Regions from separate parts of the Homo sapiens genome. Here region 1 is linked to region 2. The links come from fine-mapping of genetic effects on gene expression. A gene starts in region 2. The other region holds a variant in brackets. All regions are shown on one strand. Distances are from middle to middle. Region 1 has its middle 6.3 kb from the start of GH2. Region 2 holds the start of FTSJ3 (FtsJ RNA 2'-O-methyltransferase 3).

Region 1 (12,096 bases), 60 kb before region 2:
GGCTGGATGGGAGGGGATAAATCCCAGATGACACTCACTTCCCTTCGGGGGATGCAACACAGAGGGGTGGGAACCAGCACAATCTGCAGAACTCAGGCCCCTGCTGAGGTGGGACCCACCCAGCCTGTCACCATCAGGACTGCAGGGACACGGCTTCCAGACCTTCTGACCTTTTGAGACAGCCAGGACATCCAGACTTTTACAGGAATTCTAACATTTAAACACTGGCAACACATATTGAAAATCTTTTAAGGGCAAAAATTAACCGAAACACACATGGTCTCCAAGCTGTCTGTGAGCAATTTTGTTCTAAGAGATGTTGATTGGGGTAACTTGGTGTAAGGGAAAGAATCAGAAAGATTTGGGCTGTATGTAATTTAGTGCCCCCGAATAAATTACTTGACCAAGCTGAGATAATAATATATTGCTTTACAAGGATTATGTGAGGACTAAATGCAATGGTATTTTTGATATATTATAGTACTCAAGAAATTCTAGCTATTTCTGCATTGAATTTTTGGATGTTTTGTGTTTTCTGATGGAGTGTCTAAATACCTGTAGTGAAATTATATTGTTTTCCTAATGACAATTAGGAAATAATAAACATCTCAGATGTTTATTATTTCCAAATAAGCACTAAAGAGCGGTGGTTAGTTAAGAGTTTGCTCTCCCAAGCACCTTGGCTAAGTGACTGGTGACCTATAAATCGATGCTAAGATGCTCACAGGAACTCTAGTATCCAAAAATGATTTCATAAAGTCAGGAATTGTTTTGCAATGCAAATAATCAACCCCCCAATTAATCTTCTTTAGAAGTTCGATTCTTAAATGCTATAATGAATTTTCTTGATAATGAGACCCACTTGTATTCATTTTTGGCTATTTTACCATTAATAACTCAGTCCTTGGGAAGTGGTTGAAAGTTGAACTAAACAGAATTCTGGAGCTGCTGCATTTCTCAGCTCAGAAGCCATTCCTGCATCTTGCATTGTTCTTCTACTATCGGGCTTTAAAATTATGGCATTTTGGAGTTAGAAGGGCCTCATAAGTCAGCCTAGTTTCTTCTACTTTGGGAATCTTATCCTACAACATCCATTACAGTCAGTATTCCATTTACGAGTGTGTAGCACTAGAACCAAGGGAATCACTTTCACAAGGCTCCTCATTCTATTAAACCACTCTCATTGCAAAAAACTATTTCTTGCACGAAGCTGGAATCAATATTCCTGCAATGTCCTTCATTTGGCCTTAAAATTATTTAGAAATCTCAGTCTTTAGAAGTTGATGGAATGAGCACAATTATAATTATCTCTCGGCTTGCGTGTTTTAAAAGGAAATGTGAGCCATCTTAATAAGTATTTGTTGAATGCACGTGACAGTGGAATGACAATGTCCAGCGCCTACTTGGGTGGCTAAGAGGGTTCTAAAGTGGGGTGGTCATAACATGTAACTGAACTGCAGGGGGAGCCACACTCCAGAGACTGTCCACCCAGCTCCCCTCGGGTATAGGAAACTCCACTCAACCACTGCTGGTTGAGAATTAGAAAGATACTACCAACTTTGCACATTTTAAAATATAAAAAGACCTTAAAGACCATCTACTTTAAACTCTTTGATTTACCCACTGTTAGTCTACATTTCAGCTCATCAACTTGGTGTGGACAGCAATTTCCGCTGCAAATTTGAGATGCCTAGGGTGTTTTCTAAACGATGCATTCGTGAGCCCTCACTCCCTGAGATTCTGATATAATTAGACTGGAATGTGGTCCAGGCAAGAGTAATTTGAAAACTTTCCCAGGTGATTCTAACATGTAAACAAGGTTGAGAACCACCGTGTTAGGGACCGCAAAGATGAGACCCATGTGTTCACAGCTGTTGTACTGGTGGAACAGGGAAAACAGAGAAAAAGGAGATGAGAAAAAGGAGAAAAAGGAGATGGCAGTTGTGGTGCCACCTGCTCCTAATTCCAACCAGTCATCTAAAAGTGTTTATCGTGAGCCAGTCACAAAAAGACAAATACTCTCCGATTCCAGTCAGATGAGGTACTCAGAGCAGTCAAATTCATAGAGACAAAAAGTAGGATGGTGGCTGCCAGTGGCTGTGGGGAGGGATGGAATAGGGAGCTATTTAATGAGCACAGGGTTTCAGCTGTGCAAGATGAAAAGGGTTCTGGAGATGGTTGGTGGTGAGGGTTGCATGACGATGTCAATGTACTTGACATGACTGAACTGCACAGGCAAAATGGTTAAGATGGAAACGTTTATATCTTCTCACAACTAAAAATTGTTAATAGTTTCTTTTTGTTTTGTTTTTGTTTTTGTTTTTGAGACAGAGGCTGGAGTGCAGTGGTGGGATCTTGGCTCACTGCAACCTCCGCCTCCTCCCAGGTTCAAGTGATTCTCATGCCTCAGCCTCCTGAGTAGCTGGGATTATAAGTGTGCACCACCACACAGGGCAGATTTTTGTATTTTTGGTAAAGACAGGGTTTCGCCATGTTGGCCAGGCTGGTCTCAAACTCCTGGCCTCAGGTGATCCACCCACCTTGGCCTCCCAAAGTGATAGGATCATAGGCAGGAGCCACCAGGCCTGGCCCTTAATGGTATTTTCTATCGAAAACTCTTCCTGAAGATAAGATTAGTGAGACTCGCACAGGGAAGAGTTCAGCAGGCAGAGCTCCAGTCATCCTTGACCCCTGGCATAATGTTTTACTGACTCTGTCATTTTTTTTGAATTTACCCTAACCTAAAGTGACCAATTCTGAATTTCTTCCATGAGCATTGTCGAAATACACATGGTGGGTTTTGTCCCTTTATACACAGTTGAGAGCAGAACTGACCCCTTCCCTTTTCTTCTGAATTACAGGGTCTGGGCTTCTAGGCCAAGACAAGCTGACATTTTGCCTGGCTGCTTCTTTAATTCAGAAGGCCCTGAAGTGCTGTGGCACACAATGAGCACCGCTGGGATTAGGGTTACCAACTCGTCCTAGTTTGCAGGAGACTTTCTCAATGTCAACACTGAAAGTCCCACGTTCCTTCCAGGGATCCCTCAGCTGAATGAACACTCAGCTAACAGGACTGGTCACCCTATTAGTAGTCCTAAATCTTAGGGTACCAAACTGTGGGGAAAGTAGGGGAAGGAGCAAGAAAAAGACTAGAAAAACCGGAAAGCTGTGCTCGGTGTATATGACCTTTGATGGCCCTCATGGTTATCATGGATTTCTGATTCTTGCTTTGAGTTTACTGTGATTATAAAGATGTGCTTAATTACCACTAGAATTATCAGTGTAATAATAAAAAACAACTAATGTGAACACATATCTCCAGCACCATGCTAGTTTATTACATGTATTGTGTCATTTCTTTCTAATTATAATTCTCTAAGGTAAATACTATTATTAATCCTATGGTAAGAAGTCCCACTAACGATGTAACTTATGCTTTCTCAGGTCTAGAGAGAAAGACACCAGAATGTCACCCTGACCATCCTTGAGAGGATAAACGGCCAGGCACGGTGGCTCACGCCAGTTATCTCAGCACTTTGGAGGGCTGAGGCGGGAGGACGTCACAAGTTCGAGACAAGCCTGGCCAACATGGTGGCACCCCGTCTCTTACTAAAAATACAAAAATTACCAGGTGTGATGGTGCACACCTGTATTCCCAGCTACTGAGGCGCGAGAATCACTTGAGCCCAGGAGGCAGAGTTGCACTGAGCCCATCATGCCACTGCCCTCCAGCTGGATGGCTGAGCAAGATTCTCTCTCAAAAATAGTAAGAAAGAGGGTAAACTTTTGGAGTATTAAAGGCCACTCTTCCTCTGGAGATAATCAAGGTAGCTGCAATTTAAGCATAAGCTGGTTGCTTTAATGTTCAGAAAGAATATGATCAAAACCATTTAGAGGGTGGGGCCTCCTCTTATAGACAATGAGGCAGCTACCCTTAGAAGCTCTATTATACTGGAAAAGAGATATGAGACCCTTCCTACTTTAAGAATCAATGAAGCCGGGTGTGGTGGCTCACGCCTGTACTCCCAGCATTTTGAGAGGCCAAGCTGGGCAGATCACCTGAGGTCAGGAGTTTGAGACCAGCCTAGCCAACATGATGAAATCCTGTTTCTACTAATAACACAAAAATTAGCCGGGTGTGGTGGCGCACATCTGGAATCCCAGCTACTCCAGAGGCTGAGGCAGGAAAATTGCTTGAAGCTGGGAAGCAGAAGTTGCAGTGAGCCGAGATTGTGCCACTGCACTCCAGCCTGGGAGACAGAGCGAGACTCTGTCTCCAAAAAAAAAAAAAAAGAAAAGAAAAAAAAGAATCAATGAGAAGGGGCTGCCTGCCTGACCACTGGTTGTGTGGATCCTTCGGGAAGGAAAGCGAACAGAGGTTCCAAGTCTACAAGGGAAACAGCCCAGCCTACTCTGAAGAGCTTTGCGGGACGGCTCATCCAAACTACTGAGCTCTAAGAACTGGAACCCTGGAAACCCCAGCAAGAGGACACCCGCAGCTGGACCAGGCCCCGAAGAAGCAGATCATCCTCCCTCAGAGATCCACAGCAGCTGGGAACCCGGATCTGCAGACCCGCTTGGTTTGAGGGTACTGTGTGGGACCATCTGTCAACACTGACACCCTGTGGCAGTGAGAAGCAAAGGCAGCAGCCGGCTAAGCCTCCAGGATCTCCCTGCTGGAACTAGAAAGTCCAAGTGGCCCCCTTCTTCCCTCTTTTTTTTGTTTTGTTTGTTTTGTTTTTTGTTTGTTTGCTTTTGTTTTTGTTTTCTTCAAGATGGGGTGTCACTCTGTTGCCCAGGCTGGAGTGCAATGGTGCAATCTTGGCTCACTGCAACCTCAGTATCCCGGGTTCAAGCGATTCTTCTGCCTCAGCCTCCCCAGTAGCTGGGATTACAGGTGCACACCACCATGCCTGGCTCATTTTTCCCTTCCTTTTTGGATTCGCTGTGCTTCAAGGCACTGAGGCCATGAGGCAGGGTTTGCAGATACAGGGTAACTACAGCCCTGATGCGACTGATCCTGACACCAAAATGGCTGTGGATCCCTGCATGGTGTGGCTGTATACTCCTGTCTCTTAAACCTGCTTCTTAACTTACTTCCCCAAATGCTCAATTCAGGGAAGGTGGATGATTTATATTAGACTCACATGATGAAGGAGCAGTAGCTCCACCTAGTGGAAACATTGAGGTTGAAAAG[T/G]TCATGTTCGGGGATGATGCTATTTTACAAAGTCAAGATATTTCGTGTCCCTCCGGGAAGCCTTCCTTGATCCGAGTTATGCTTTCTCTTAACAATCTGTTTTCCCAGTCATAGGAGTTCATGCACAAATGTAATCTCCTACTTGTTTGTCTAGCTTTCCTAATATATTTTTGGAAGCCAGGAACAATGTTTTGTTCACCACTGTATCCCCACTGCCTTGTATGTGGTGAAACCAAAGGGTTACTTTTACACTTAATCTATAGCACCAGACTCAGGGGAGGTCTGGGAAGAATGGGAAAACGTTTTCCCTCTGCTGTCTGATGCCATGGTTTTTTCTAGCTGGTATCTGCAATTTGGAAGGCTATGGACCTCTCTCTATCTGGAAGTCTGACCTTTAGCTTTCATTTTTGTTCCTTTATTTTGCTTTTGAGACAGGGCCTGGCTCCGTTGCCCAGGCTGGAGTGCAGTGCATGATCTCAACTCGCTGCAACCCTCCACCTCCCGTGCTCAAGTGATCCTCCCACCTCAGACTCTCAAGTAGCTGGGACTACATGCATGTGCCACTATACCTGGCTAAGTTTTGTGTTTTTTGTAGAAATGGGGTTTTGCCATGTTGCCCAGGCTATTCGCAAACTCCAGGGCTCAAGTGATTCACCTGCCTCAGCCTCCCAAAGTGCTGGGATTACAGGCGTGAGCCACCACACCAGCCTGAATTTCAGTTTTGAAAGCAGGTCAAATAGGCTGCTGCCCTCAGTTAATGCACCCCCGGCCCTGGGCTGGTTGTTTATGCTATCAACACGGTATTTTTTCCTTAGAAATTGTACTTAAAGTTATAAAATGCAGCCGGGAGTGATGGCTCAGGCCTGTAATCCCAGCACTTTAGAAGGCCGAGGTGGGTAGATCACGAGGTCGGGACTTCAAGATCAGCCTGGCCAAGGTGGTGAAACCCTGTCTCTACTAAAAATACAAAAAATTAGCTGGTCATGGTGGTGGGCGCCTGTAATCCCAGCTACTCTTAATCTATAGAGGCTGAGGCAGAGAATTGCTTCAACCCGGGGGTGGAGTTTGAAGTGGACCGAAATCACACCACTGCACTCCAGCCTAGGCAAAGAGCGAGACTCCATCTAAAAAAAAAAGTTATAAAATGCAGCCATTTGACATAAGAGCTTTTAGCAATGACACAGAAGGGAAGGGAACTGCATTTGGACATCATAAAACCACTTTTATTTTTACCATAGCAACATTCCAGTGAACATTTCTTGACTGATTTGGGAGAAAACATCTGGTTCTGTGATTCCTCACGCCTTCTCCGAGGGTGAATATACTCTTTCTCAAGGACAGGGAAAGAAGCTGAAACATAAAATCATATGAACATTTTCACAAGAAGATTCCTCTTGAAGCTTCAAGGAAATTGTTTACAGACAGAAGAAAATATGCACTTATTGATGAAAAGGGAGAGTAAAGATTGGAACTTTAACCTAGATGCCCATATGGGTAAAAAAAAGAAAACTGGCAAATGCGAACTCACAGTTGATCACTCTATGAAAAGGAATTCAGAGATGTTTGGAGCTCTTAACCTATGAGGCCAATTTCATGGAAGAACTCTACCTTCTCCTTCAGAGACAGAATACTGAGCTAGATAGGATGCCCGTCTGGCCCAAAGTGGAATTTCTTACCATCTGTATACTCCCCCAAGACCCGCAACAGATGGTTACTGAGTTGAAGCTTGCCACTGATCCTTAATGATGTCAACAAGCTCAGCTCTGGGAGCTGGCCCTCCAGAAGCCCAGGTCAGGGGAGCAAGGGAAAGTGGAGATAGGAACAGAGCTCTGATTCCTGGCCCCATATTTGATACTTACTCCCTTCAAAGTCCTGTCCTTGGACTACAGATTTAGTTCCCAGTTAGTAATCAGAAAACCATGAAATATGAGTTGTATTTCTAAGATATGCCTGACTTTAGTATGATGTTTAAGAGAAAAGGGCAGTGAGAACCATGAAGAAACGGCAAGATCTTTTCTTTTTTTTTTTTTGGATCTAAGAGTGGACTGATGATGCACCTGGCAAGGAGCAAGAGGCCTTCTTACAAATCAAACATTGAGACTGAGATTCCTAATGAATAGAGTGAGCTCTAAAGAGAAAGGTGGCTGGGCGCGGTGGCTCACACCTGTAATCCCAGCACTTTGGGAGGCCAAGGTGGCCGGATCACTTGAGGTCAGGAGTTTGAGACCAGCCCAGCCAACATGGTGAAACCCCATCTCTACGAAAAGTACAAAAATTAGACAGGCATGGTGGTGTGCACCTGTAATCCCAGCTGCCAGGGAGGCTGAGGCAAGAGAATCACCTGAACCCGGGAGGCTGCAGTTGCAGTGAGCCAGGATCGCATCATTGCACTCCAGCCTAGGCGACAACAGCAAGACTCCATCTCAAAAAAAAAAAAAAAGAAAAAGAAAAAGAAAAGAAAAGAGAGAGAGAGAGAGAATGGTGAGCTTGTGGACATATTGGACACACAGGACATGGGGCATGGGGGCCTGAAACACCGTTTTACAGGACAGACGTACACAAAGGGGAATGCAGCCTGCCATTGTGTTTCTTCCTTTCTCCTCTATCCCTTCTTCCCTCCCTGGGAAACCACAGTAGCAGAAGTCTCATTCAATCAAACAGTTGTCAATTATATGAGTTGTACTTTTCTCTTCCTGAACAGCAAACTGGCTTTCCTCCTCTTTGTCCTCCTCTTTCTGCCTATAGAGCAATTTCCTCCTGTCCACTTTGCAGGGCCGATAGCTCAAATACAGTGCTATGGTGATGACACCCACTCCAAGGGCAACGGTAATAATGACAAAGAGGGTAGAGCTTATTCCTTCATCCAGTCCTGCCCAAGCACAGAAGATAGAGTTAGGAAAGTCTGAGAGTACAAGGATCACCCACCCCAGCCCACCAGGCCCACTTCTGAGTCTCATTCTTCCCAACCTAGTAGAATCTTTCTTATTTTCATGCTTAGATAAGAATCCCAAACCCCTGAGGGGTTTCCATCCTGGGCCTGGCAGCAGGGCAGCAAAGGTTACCTTGAACAATGACAGCAATGTCTTTGCTGACAGAGCCCAGCTGGTTAGTGGCTGTGCAGCGGTAGGTTCCAGTGTGGTTCTGGGTTGCCTTCTGTGGCACTTCAAGGTCAAAGACCACCCCATTCCAGGTACACACCAAGGCTGGAGCTGGGTTTCCCTTTGGGACGCAGGTGAGCGTGTGTTCCATCCCTTCCAGCCAGGTCTGTTTGGCAGAGCAACTGGATTCCTCTAACCGTGGTTGGTCTGCAGAAACAGTATCCCAAGGAGCTGAGTTCAGTGCACCACACTCCCTCCCTACTTCACCCCCTGCTCCCTCTCCTCCCCTCACCCAAATGCTGTCCCCTCCACCCAACAGCTTTCCTTCCCAAGGGAGCACTAGCAGCTCCCTGCTTTGAGCCAACTCTTCTTTCCCACTTTCCGTATGGGCAGGGAGTCCCAGATGAAACCTAGGGTGTTCTTATGGATTTGGACTAAATGATAACCCTGCTCTGTCCATGGTGGCCCTGGGGCCCCTGCTTCCCATGTTTGTTTCTCGGTGGGTAAGGAGCTAGGTAACAGTGAACTCAGAGATGAGGATTTTTCTACTTTTCTTTTTGGTTTTTTTTGGTTGTTTGTTTGTTTTGGAGACAAAGTCAGTCTCACTCCTTCGCCCAGGGTGGAGTGCAGTGGCGCGATCTCGGCTCATGACAACCTCTGCCTCCCAGGTTCAAGCAATTCTTGTGCCTCAGCCGCTCCAGTAACTAGGATTACAAGCGCATGCCACCACACCCGGCTAATTTTTCTATTTTTAGTAGAGATCAGTTTCACCATGTTGGCCACGCTGGTCTCAAACTCCTGACTTCAGGTGATCCACATGTCTCAGCCTCCCAAAGTGTTGGGATTACAGGCATGAGCCACCACGCCGGCCTATCCTGAGCCTTTTGAAGCTGACGCCAGAGGTGCAAAGCGCAGCCTCTCCCCATTGGCCATGTGGAGGCTCTTGTTGGGTACTCTCTCAGCCTGCAGGAGCCAGGGATCTGGCCTCAAGTGATGCCCCAACAGTGGGCGACCTCCCAGTACTGTCAGGGGAATCCCAAGTCTAATTCAAAGATGATTTTTTACTAGCAATGAATGATGGATGTGGTCTCCATTGCTCAAGGCTCTGGGAAGATCTAGACTAGAGAAAATGATCATTGACTTCTACCCACACCTGTGGGCCTCAGTTCTTCCCTCTGGTCCATGGTTACCATGGTAATCCCTTATAAAGGTGTTTCCCCAGGGGTCCCTAGAGTCCTCTGAGTCACCATAATTCTGGGGTCAACAGAAGTGGAGAGGTGAGAGGAGACACTCCCCTGCCCCGGCTGGTCCCACGTGTTGCTGTCAGTAACCTGCCTGGGGAGCCTTGCCACCCCTGTGCCCACCTGCGGAGTTATGCAGTGGTCCCCAACTAGGGCCCCTGCCACCCTCATTCCTAAGGGAGGCTGGAGACTTCTTCCATGGCCGAAAATCCACATCGAAGTCCCCAGAACTGGCTAAAAGGACCTGTCATGGGGGCTCCCTGTCCCAGCTGACATTGGAGGAAGGATGGTGGGGGAGGCAGAAAGCTACATGGAGCTCAGGGACCCTCTTCCATTCCCACCTAGCTCCTCCTCTTTGCTGGTGCTGGAAGGAGCAGGGGAAAGTGGTGACTCCACCCTCCCTTGGCCACATATTTCTCAGAGCTGGTATCATTGATGACACCCCTCTTGGATCCTCACACAGGCGGGCCTGGAGAACAGCCCACAGCACAGTGCCCTCCCAGCAGGTGATGAGTCTGGGGTGCTGGTCCGATAATGTTTCAGGAATGATGGCAGAAAATGGAGCTCTGTTTTCTGCTCTGAAAGTGGGGAGATGGCAGGGCCCCAGCATTCACATCCTAGGCCACAGGGGTGTGGGTTTTCAATGTTGGTTGCCAACACCACAGCCAACCACTTCTGGAAGCATTTGCTTGTTTGCTTGCTTGTGTTTCTACAGAGTCAAGTGCTAGATGCTCTTAAACTCAGGGGGGAAGATTTCACCACTAGAGAGGGTGCTCTTTCCTGCTCTCATCTCTGGGGGTATCTGATGCTTGTGACCTCCAGATTATATTGAAGTAGCCCCAACCCTGGGCACCAGGAGACAGGAGGCTCAGTCCTGGCCTTCTCTGCCTTCACCTTGTCCTGCTCTGAGGTTTCCACAAGGCACCCCATGCCACTGGGCCATTCTCACCTGAGAATTGAGAAAGAACAATCTGCCCCTTATGGAAAGACAAAATGAGGCAAAGGGCCCCTTGTGTTGGGGGCAGGATCCCTGCACTCAGAGGGATATAGAAGCTGAAATAACTGGGTTGGGAGCAGTGGCTCACGCAAGTAATCTCAGTACTTTGGGAGGCCAGGGAGGGTGGATCACCTAAAGTCAAGAGTTCGAGACCAGCCTGGCCAACATAGTGAAACCCCCGTCTCTACTAAAAAAGTGCAAATCTTAGCCCGGCATAGTGGTGGACGCCTGTAATCCCAGCTACTTGGGAGGCTGAGGCGGGAGAATCACCGGAACCCAAAGGTGGAGGTTGCTGTGAAGCAACATCATGCCACTGAACTCCAGCCTGGGTGACAGAATGAGACTCCATCTCAAAAAAAAAAAAAAAGGAAATGAAGCTAAAATAACTAAATAACTGAGTAGCACCACACTACGTGCTATGGAGAAAGGATTTTTTTTTTTTTTTTTTTTGAGATGTAGACTCGCTCTGTCATCCAGGCTGGAGTGCAGTGGCGCAATCTTGGCTCACAGCAACCTCTGCCTCCTGGGTTCAAGCGATTCTCCTGCCTCAGCCTCCCAAGTAGCTGGGATTACGGGCTCGTGCCACCATGCCCAGCTAATTTTTGTATTTTTAGGAGAGATGGAGTTTTGCCATGTGGGTTAGCCTGGTCTTGCACTCCTGACCTTAAGTGATCCACCCACCTCAGCCTCCCAAAGTGCTGGGATTATAGGCATGAGCCACCGTGCCCGGCCTGGAGAAAGGACTTTAAATGACGCAATGTGGGAAGAGCAAGGTTGTGAAGATCTGCTGCCCTGGCTGAGGTAGCTCATGTAATCAGTCTCTCTGAGCCTCAGTCTCCTGATCTGTGAAATGGGATGATAGTCATAGCTCCTACACAAGACAAGTGGCAGTTCAGACGTGAGAATGCACAGGCAGGCCCTTGGCAACTGGATAAGCTCTACACAGGTCTGGAAAGGAGGAGGAGACAAAAGAGGAGGGGCTTCCATGGCTGGATAGGGCGTCTTTTGGCGTGATGTGTTCTGAGTTTTAAAGCTGGGGAAGAGACTCAAATCTTCAAGAGCTCTTCCAACTTTGAGATTCTCTGTTGGTTTCAGGACTATGGGAGGAAGCGCTTGTGGTCCGTGTCTGTTCCCGGGATTTCTGTTTCTTGGTTTGTATCTCTGCTACAGGTCCAAGGAGCTGGGGCAATACCTTGAGTCTGGGTTATTCGTCCCCAGGGACCTGGGGGAGCCCCCCCCCCACCCCTCCCACACCCACACCCACCCCCACCCCCACCCCCATCCCCACGCCCCGCCCCCGCCCCCGCCCCAAGGCTCAGGTAAAGGGGAGAGCAAAGTGTGGAGTTTGTTCCCTCTAGTGGTCAGTATTAGCACTGCATCCAGGCGGGCCTGTCTCAGGCGAGCCCAGGAGTCAGCAAAAGTGGAATTCAGCACTGAATCATGCCCAGAACCCCCGCAATCTATTGGCTGTGCTTTGGCCCCTTTTCCCAACACACACATTCTGTCTGGTGGGTGGAGGGGAAACATGCGGGGAGGAGGAAAGGAATAGGATAGAGAGTGGGA
Region 2 (8,404 bases):
GCAGGCAGGCCCAAGTAGGACTGCTGGAGGCTGTGCTTTGACATTGTAAGACATTTCCGAACCAAAGGCTGCTGGGTTTGCATGTTTACAGACTCCCCCTGGGGCGAGGGTCAGAGCTGGCTCTGGGGAGCTGGGCTAGGAAGAGGAGGTGCAGCCCAGACTCTTCCTAGCCTTTCTAAACCAAAGTTCTTTGCCATTCCTACAAGCCCAGCCTTGCTGCTGGTTTTTTCCTTTCCTTTGGGTATTTGCACTATTTTGGGAGCAAGTTTTCTATGTGGGAGCCACTTTTTTTGTACAGGGGTAAGTTGGGGGTTTTCAGGGAGCCTGTTAGGTGCCTCCTTCTTTTCTTTCCTCAATCTATGCAAGCGGCTCTGGCCGCCATCATCTCCTGGGATGCCAGAGGGCTGCCTCTCCAGCGGCTTGGGCCGGGGAGGGGACACTCCAGTTCTCTAGCATGGCCTGAGGTATGGGGTATGTGCATGTGGAGGCCAGGGTAAGGTGAATGGGGAGGCTGGGAGGACTGGTGTTGCCCTTTGGAGCTTGGTGAGGAGGGTGGGCCTAGGGCTTGGCGAGTGCCACATCTGGCAGGTTTGGAAATTTCCAAATAAATCCTTTTGTCTATTGGTGGTGCCTGGACCTGGTCCTTGAACAGCACAGCCCTCATTAACAGACTGGAGTCCTAGAGGACTTGGCCCACAGAGCTTTATTGGAGAGATACACACAAAGGCTGTCCACTCACTTCCATAATTTCTTGATGGACATGTTTTTCTCACTGTCCTTCTGCATGACCTAGGGGTGGGAGAGAGAATGAACATTAAGTTACGAACACACACATGCCCTAGCCCACTGCCCCAGAGCCACCACTGGCAAAGGCACAAAGATGGAGGCCTATACCTTGGCTACTGCCATCTCAAAGTCCTCCTGAGTGACATGGACTCGCCGTTCTCGCAGGGCATACATGCCAGCTTCTGTGCACACGCCCTGAACAGGAAAAGGAAATTGAGGCCCCACTGCTGTGCCCCTCATCTGTGGCCCTTGAGCCCAGAGCTTCCTGCCTCTGCCCTGTTTTCAGTGGGTACTCCAATTACCTTCACTTCAGCCCCTGATGCTCCTGGCATGAGCTCAGCAATTTTTCTCAGGTTGATCCCCCGGGTCAGGTTCATCTTCCGAGAATGAATCTTCAAAATGTCCAGCCGGGCCTGGAGATGGCAAGGAAAAGCCTGAGCCCCACACCCCACCCCCACAGCCAGAGCCACTTTGCACAGTGTCCATCACAAACCTCCTCATTGGGGGGTGGGAATTCAATTTTTCTGTCAATGCGCCCTGGGCGAAGCAGTGCCGAGTCCAGGATATCAATCCTATTAGTAGCCATGATAACCTGAGCAGAGAAAGCAAGTGGGGATCAGCTAAACCTCTTCCTCAGCCTGCGTGGCACCCAGGCCTTCCCTGGGCCCATCCCAAGGATGCTACCACCTTACCTTGATGTTCTTGGTGGCCTCAAAGCCGTCGAGCTGGTTGAGCAACTCCAGCATCGTGCGCTGCACTTCACTGTCCCCTCCAGAACCCCCCTCCAGCCGCGAGGAGCCGATGGAGTCGATTTCGTCCATGAAGATGATAGATGGAGCATGTTCCCGTGCCATGACAAACAGCTCCCTCACCATTCTTGCCCCTGTGTGGAGGCCGAGCTGGTGTTAGGGAGCTTATTAGCTTATTAGCTCTCTAACCCCCTACCCCTACCTCTTGCTTCTCACATTGCTAGCCATGGTTACCTTCCCCTATGAATTTCTGTACCAGTTCAGAGCCAGAGACACGAATAAAGGTACAGTCCGTATGATGAGCCACAGCCCGGGCCAACAGTGTCTTCCCAGTGCCTGGAGGTCCATACAGCAGCACTCCCTACAGGGGAACAGCAGGACTCAGGGCAGAAAGCTACACCCCTCATTTCATTCAGTGAACATTTACCGAGTGCTGGGTCCCTTGCTAGATGTTAGGGATACAAAAAAAAAAAAGGAACATCAAGGTCCCTTCTATCCAAACCACCTCACCGCCCTAGGAACACTTCCCCAGCCACTCTTTTCAGGGGGAGGGCCAGCCCAAGCAAGATGCAGCCTATCCCGGTGCCTCCCCAACCCCTGCAGTAGGGCTGGCTGGGGCAGGAGGAGTAAGTACAGCTTGGCCCTCTCAGAGAAGCCCTGCTCCTCACCTTGGGCTGAGCAATGCCCAGTGCTTCGAAGAGCTCAGGATGCTTAACAGGCAGCTCGATCACTTCTTTGATCTCCTTGATCTGTTTGTCCAGTCCACCAATCATCTCATAAGTTGAATCTGGTACTTTCTCCACCATCATCAGTGACACTAATGGGTCTACCTTGTTGGGCAGGATCTTGTGCAGAGTGTAGCTGTCATTCCTTAGAGCCACCCGGCAATTGGGTGTCACCTGGGTGAAGGGGGCGAGTTTCAGAAGTGGTACAGTAAGAGCTGACCCCACCACCACCACCACCTCACCTGCTACACTCACATCATTGATGTCAATGTTTTTGTCCACGTCTACAACAAATTTACCTTCAGGATGTACCTAAAGAAACAAGGGCTCATGACCTTCCTTGACAGCCACCAAATCACTAATCCTACCCAGGAAGACCTATGAGAATCCCACAATACCTTGACAGAACACAGAACCCTGTCTCCCGAGGCTACACACAAAGGGGTGGGAATGCAGTGGAGACCGAGCTGGTCCCTGGGGTCATGCTGCTTTTACCTTGACCAACACTTTCTTCTTATCCATGGCCCGGACTACTTCCCCCACATAGGAGCCCTGCTCCTGCAGCAGCTGTAGCTCCTCCCGCAATAGGCGAACTAGATGGCAAACAGACACAGTGGTCACCTAGCTACTCCTTTGGAGTCTCCAGGACCCAATTCTACGTGCATGAGCTAAGCATCACTCTTATTAAAGGAAGGCCAAAGGTCAAAATTCATGTATTTAAGGAGGCTACAATAGGGCTCAGGAAAAAGAGATGCATGTGAAACTACTAGATGATGACAGGGAGAAAACAGTAAGCACTGCTGTGAAGACACAGTGCAGGGAGATAAGGACAGACCTCAGACAAACTGCCCACATGCGGCTTCCCATCTTTCTCCACTCACCTTTAGCATTTAGTTCGTTCCTCTGTGCCTGCAGCCTCCGGAGGTTTTGGCTCTTATCATTCACAATCAGCTGTGGCAGACAAGAGACAAATTCCATTATTCAAGGGCAGGAGACAGGAGGAGGTAGGATCTTGGCCAAGACCTCACAGGTCTGAATGAGCTGAGGGAAGGGCACAGGGCACCTGCATGTTGTTTCAGATTCTCCAGTATGATCCTAATGACCCTGCCCTGTCCTTCAAGAGTCCCTCTGGACCTTACAGCAGCCATCAAAGAAGGCTGCTTGTCCAATACTGGTCCAGGAGTAACAGAATCTAATGGAGAAAAGTTACAGCTGGCTCATGTAACACCAAATTTCTTGCAGGAAGGCAACAACACCTGGTGGAAAGATTGTTAGGTGAGAAACCTGAGTTCTAGCCCAGCCGCTGTCAATCAAAAGCAAAGTAAAGGTAAGACAATCTATTTTTAAAAATCTAGATCTGTTACCAAACGGCACATGGGTATAGCATCAGCTACCCTGCTTCAAGACTACTAAGGTGAACGAATAAAAACACATGAAAAAGCATTCAAAAATGGTAAACTAAACATAATACCTGCAAATGCACTTGGAATTCAGAATTGTCTTTTGTGGCTTTCCCCCATCCAATTTATATTACAGTTGACACTTGAACAACGCAGGGGGTTAGGGTGAAATTGAAAATCCATGGACCTGTCCAAAGTTAAACTACTAACAGCCTACCGTAACAGTATAACGTAACACTAACAGACTACTGTTTATGTTGTCTGTAAGGCTTACTACTGGAAGCCATACCTTACTGCTGGAAGCCTTACTGGTAACACAAACATTTGATTAACAACATAAACGGTCCTTTTTCTATGGTTTAGCGCTTTAGGCTAGGGCTCTGGGTTGCCCAATTTCTTTCATTCAGTCTCTATGGAATTAGCATTGTCCAGATCCCTCAATGATGCCCTTCCTCACATTCTCACTTCACCCTCACCCAACCTCTTGGTGATAAATTTCAACTCCTGAGCTTATGTTTCCCTTTTATAAGAATCCTTTTCATTCGGGCTTCTTCCAAAAGGGTTGACCTTTGGCTAGAGGTACCTTTACTATTAAGATTTGACTCGAAGATGTGTAACAAACTGTGAACACTAAGACCCTCAAAGAGATGGGACTGGAGGAGAACAAGAGATTGCTTACTTCTGATACATACACCCTACTAGCTAAGAAACAAACAAGAAAGGAGAAGCAGCAGCTTCTTCCACTGCACTCCCAAAGGAATTAGATGGATTTGTGGAAGTCCGTTTCCATCCCCCATCATCACCCTTCCTAGCTCCCTCTGGAGTCCGTCCTCACCTGGAGTTCTTCAATCTTGGACAGATAATATTGGCGGAGTCCGCTGCCTGCCTTCCCCTCCTCCAGCTCCATCTGAAGACACAGAGTGAGTCTTAAACGACAGGTTAAACATCCGAGGGGGTAAAGCCACTTGCAGGGCACTTTGAATAAGGCTTGACACCAGGTAGCTTTGCGTAGTAGAAAAAGTTTGGACTTCGGAGGCTCAGGATCTGGGTTCTAATCCCTCCCTCCCTTGGAACCCTCCATTTTCCCAGGACTAAAATAAAAGAATGGGAACGCCGCCTACCTCATACGACTTTTAGGAGGACCGAGAGGCGATATGATATAGACGGGGGGCGCTTTGCACTGCGTGAAGTGCTCTACAAGCCCGAGGTGTCAGTACTGACGAAGGAGCCAGCGGAACGGAGCCAAAGGACTGGCGTCCCGTCTCCTGCGACCCGTGGGCCGGCCATTCCCGCGCCCATCGCTTCCCTCACTCACTCCGCTTCTACCGCGTCTTCCTCTCCCAGCCTTGCCCTGACTCACCGAGGGCGGCGCTGACACAGCAGATCCGGTCGCAGGCAGCGTCCAGCATGGACTGGTCCAGGCACCTCCGACCCACCCGACGCTCCTGCCCCGGCCCGCTCTCCACTCAGATCACGCTCGCTCCGCACCCAGCCCCGTAACCTGCCGGGCCGCCACTGCACCCGCCATACCTGCTCTGGTCCGTCAAGCGCCATCTTCTCTCTTCAGCAGAGACCGCCGGCATCCGAGCCGTCTTGGCGCGCAAGCGCGGAAGCGGAGGATTGGGACCTGAAGACCAGGCAGAGAAGAATTCCGGGTCAATGGGCGGGGTGTGCGGCGAGACCACACTAAGGGAACCATGATGGGAGGGGCGGCTACTCGAGTTCAGGGGCTTTGGAAGGGGATGAGGAAGGAGTAGAACTCCTCCTCAGTGTTGCCTCATTGAAACTCTGTTTATAGTTCTTGTGATATGCCTTCCTAGTCTCAACTTTCAACTTACAAAACCCAAGGACAGAGTATTGAGAACAATCTAGGGCCACACTCAAAATGGCGGAAAACCTCGAGCCAGGGACGCAGGGGACGCAAGCGGAAGCGGAAGTAGTTAGCTGCATACTTGTGCGGTTCCAAGTGTGGAGAAAGCGGCTCTGGGTCTAGGTAGTGTGCGGAGAGGGGCGCGGGGTGGAATTGCTGCGGGAAGTGGGAAACTGGAAGTGGGAAACTGGAAGTGGAATCTGGTGCTCCGGAAAGAGACGTTCCCAACTTCTACTTTCTCCCCAGATTGAGGGATACTCCCCCTTTCCACCATGGGCAAGAAGGGCAAAGTTGGCAAGAGCCGACGAGACAAGTTTTATCACTTGGCGAAGGAGACGGGTGAGTCCGGATTCGCTCAGTCTGCGAGCGAGCGAGCGATCTCTGCCCGGTTCGCCTGCTCTTTGCGACCATTATGTACCTCTCCTGCAGAAGGGGTGGTCGGTTGCGAGGCCGGAGAAATCCTACTAGTGAAGCAGTTTGCGCACTTGGTTGTTTTGTCCAGGTTACCGTTCCCGATCTGCTTTCAAGCTGATCCAGCTCAATCGCCGCTTTCAGTTCCTGCAGAAAGCCCGAGCCTTGCTGGACCTGTGTGCTGCGCCAGGGGGATGGTTCGTAACACTCGCCACAGGTTGCTCCTGGTGGCCGCTTTCTGGGTTCTGAGCTGGGATGGCTTCCAGTTTCACTGCGGGAGGGGAACCCGAATCCCGGTCCTCTTGGGGGCCGTTTCCTTTCTTGATTGCAGAGAAAGGGCTTGGAATACGTGCCTATGATATGCTTTGGCCAGTACACGTAACACCAGGGATGAGAGATCAGTTGCCAAGAGGGGGAAAAGGATGGCTCTAGGTTTTTAAATTTCTGTTCCTTTTATAGGCTGCAGGTAGCTGCCAAGTTTATGCCTGTATCCAGCCTTATTGTGGGTGAGTAACGGACAGCTCTCCTTGGTGTTTTAAGGGGTGGGTGTATAAGGTATTTTGTCCTGTATTTCTCTCCTCCCTGCTTGAAGCAACCTTTTAGAATACTCTGACCTGATTTCTTCCAGGAGTGGACCTGGTTCCAATCAAGCCTCTCCCCAATGTGGTGACTCTCCAGCAGGACATCACAACAGAACGTTGTAGGCAGGTAATAGGAGTCTCTCTCTTCCTTCCCCCTTTATACGGAAACATCTACATCCCTGAAATCCTCTAAAGGCAAGTTTTTCCTTTTTACCGTGCTTTGAGCACGTTCTTGCCTGACATCTGTACGACAAGACCTATGGCATTCGTAGTGTCCACTCCAGGCTTTATTTAGAGTCAGGGATAAAGGTGTTTGGAATTGGGAGAAGGGCAGAGATCTTTAGTGAAGTCTTCTCCTGTGAATTCAGTGTCAGACTGTAATCTCCATGAAGGTAGAGACATACTGTTTTTGTTTACTATTGTATCTCCTGTGCCTGGTACTGCATTTGGCCCATGATGGGCACTCAGCAAATGACTAGATGGACAAATGGCTGAACCAGGGCCATTCCAGTGTTTCTGTTTCCATAGTTCCTTTTCTTCTCTTTAGGCCCTGAGGAAGGAGCTGAAGACCTGGAAGGTTGATGTTGTGCTCAATGATGGGGCCCCCAACGTTGGGGCTAGCTGGGTCCATGATGCTTACTCACAAGGTACAGGGAGTGTGGTGCTTGGAGATCAGGTGATGGTGGAGGTGGGCGCATGCCCTCCTGGGCTGCAGAGTGCGTCAACTAATTGTCTCTATCCTACAGCCCATTTGACACTGATGGCTCTACGTTTGGCTTGTGACTTTTTGGCCCGTGGTGGCAGCTTCATCACAAAGGTTTTCCGTTCTCGTGACTATCAGCCTCTGCTATGGATCTTTCAGCAGCTGTTCCGCCGTGTCCAGGCCACCAAGCCCCAAGCCTCTCGCCATGAATCTGCAGAGATCTTTGTAGTCTGCCAAGGTGGGCATCATTTCCTTTCTCTTGATCCAGGCTCCCAACTCCCAAAGCACACTTTTTAATATATCCTGTCATTTTTAGGATTCCTGGCCCCTGACAAGGTTGACAGTAAATTCTTTGACCCCAAATTTGCCTTTAAGGAGGTTGAAGTTCAGGCTAAGACCGTTACTGAATTGGTTACTAAGAAGAAGCCAAAGGTGTGTTTTGGGGAATGGGGTCACTCTTGGGTCCTGGAACTCTAGGGAGGTTGGGCCTGGTGGGTCCTACAGGTACCTTAGAAGGGCCTGACCAAGCTTCTCTCTTTTCCTTCCTAAGGCTGAAGGCTATGCTGAGGGTGACCTCACTCTCTATCACCGTACCTCAGTCACTGACTTCCTCCGAGCTGCCAACCCTGTTGACTTCCTCTCCAAGGCCAGCGAAGTGAGTCTCCAGCCTTGAGGGACATGAGGTAGCCCCAGAAACATGGCCTGAGGATCTCCCCTGACACCTTTCCATCCTCCCAAACAGATCATGGTAGATGATGAAGAGTTGGCACAGCATCCAGCTACCACTGAGGACATACGGGTGTGCTGTCAGGACATCAGAGTGTTGGGGCGCAAGGAGCTCAGGTATGGAGTGGGGTAGGCACGGGGGCCAGGAGCCCTGGAGGCAGGGAAAGGCCATGATGTTGGACCTCTGGGAAGAGGATATTGCTGTGCTAAAGGTTTGGGATGGGGGCCTGAGCCTTTTGATTTATGTAGCCGAAGCCCGAAAGGTGGGTAGTGAGCCTAAAACAGAAGGGGGCGGGGACAAAGAGGGAGATGGCAAGATCAGTAATAGTATCTCTGGGGCAGGTCGCTACTAAACTGGAGAACAAAACTTCGGCGATATGTGGCCAAGAAGCTGAAAGAACAAGCAAAGGCACTGGACATCAGGTGAGGAGAGAACGCAGCGAGGCAGGTGTG

Evidence for each region.
Region 1: its variant is fine-mapped to the expression of FTSJ3 in adrenal gland (GTEx, PIP above 0.99).

What each region holds. Positions count from the first base shown.
Region 1 is chr17:63,882,216-63,894,311 of GRCh38, reverse strand. No RefSeq gene overlaps it. Among named protein-coding and RNA genes, the nearest start is that of GH2, 6.3 kb to the right of the region's middle. RefSeq lists a silencer at 11,803-11,852 and an enhancer at 12,012-12,096. The variant T/G (reference allele first, on the strand shown) is at 5,198.
Region 2 is chr17:63,824,301-63,832,704 of GRCh38, reverse strand. FTSJ3 (FtsJ RNA 2'-O-methyltransferase 3) reads left to right here and starts at 5,042. Exons shown (of 21, transcript NM_017647.4): 1 at 5,042-5,653; 2 at 5,777-5,869; 3 at 6,033-6,138; 4 at 6,401-6,447; 5 at 6,570-6,649; 6 at 7,070-7,169; 7 at 7,269-7,463; 8 at 7,542-7,657; 9 at 7,776-7,880; 10 at 7,968-8,068; 11 at 8,294-8,374. The coding sequence starts at 5,803. PSMC5 (proteasome 26S subunit, ATPase 5) reads right to left here and starts at 5,274. Exons shown (of 12, transcript NM_002805.6): 1 at 5,191-5,274; 2 at 4,496-4,567; 3 at 3,142-3,211; 4 at 2,756-2,853; 5 at 2,516-2,572; 6 at 2,204-2,434; 7 at 1,770-1,896; 8 at 1,479-1,669; 9 at 1,280-1,378; 10 at 1,089-1,199; 11 at 895-981; 12 at 686-789. The coding sequence starts at 5,214. The coding sequence ends at 736. It overlaps SMARCD2 (SWI/SNF related BAF chromatin remodeling complex subunit D2), which reads left to right. Exons shown (of 13, transcript NM_001098426.2): 13 at 1-624. RefSeq lists enhancers at 4,884-4,933, 5,314-5,593, 4,730-5,929.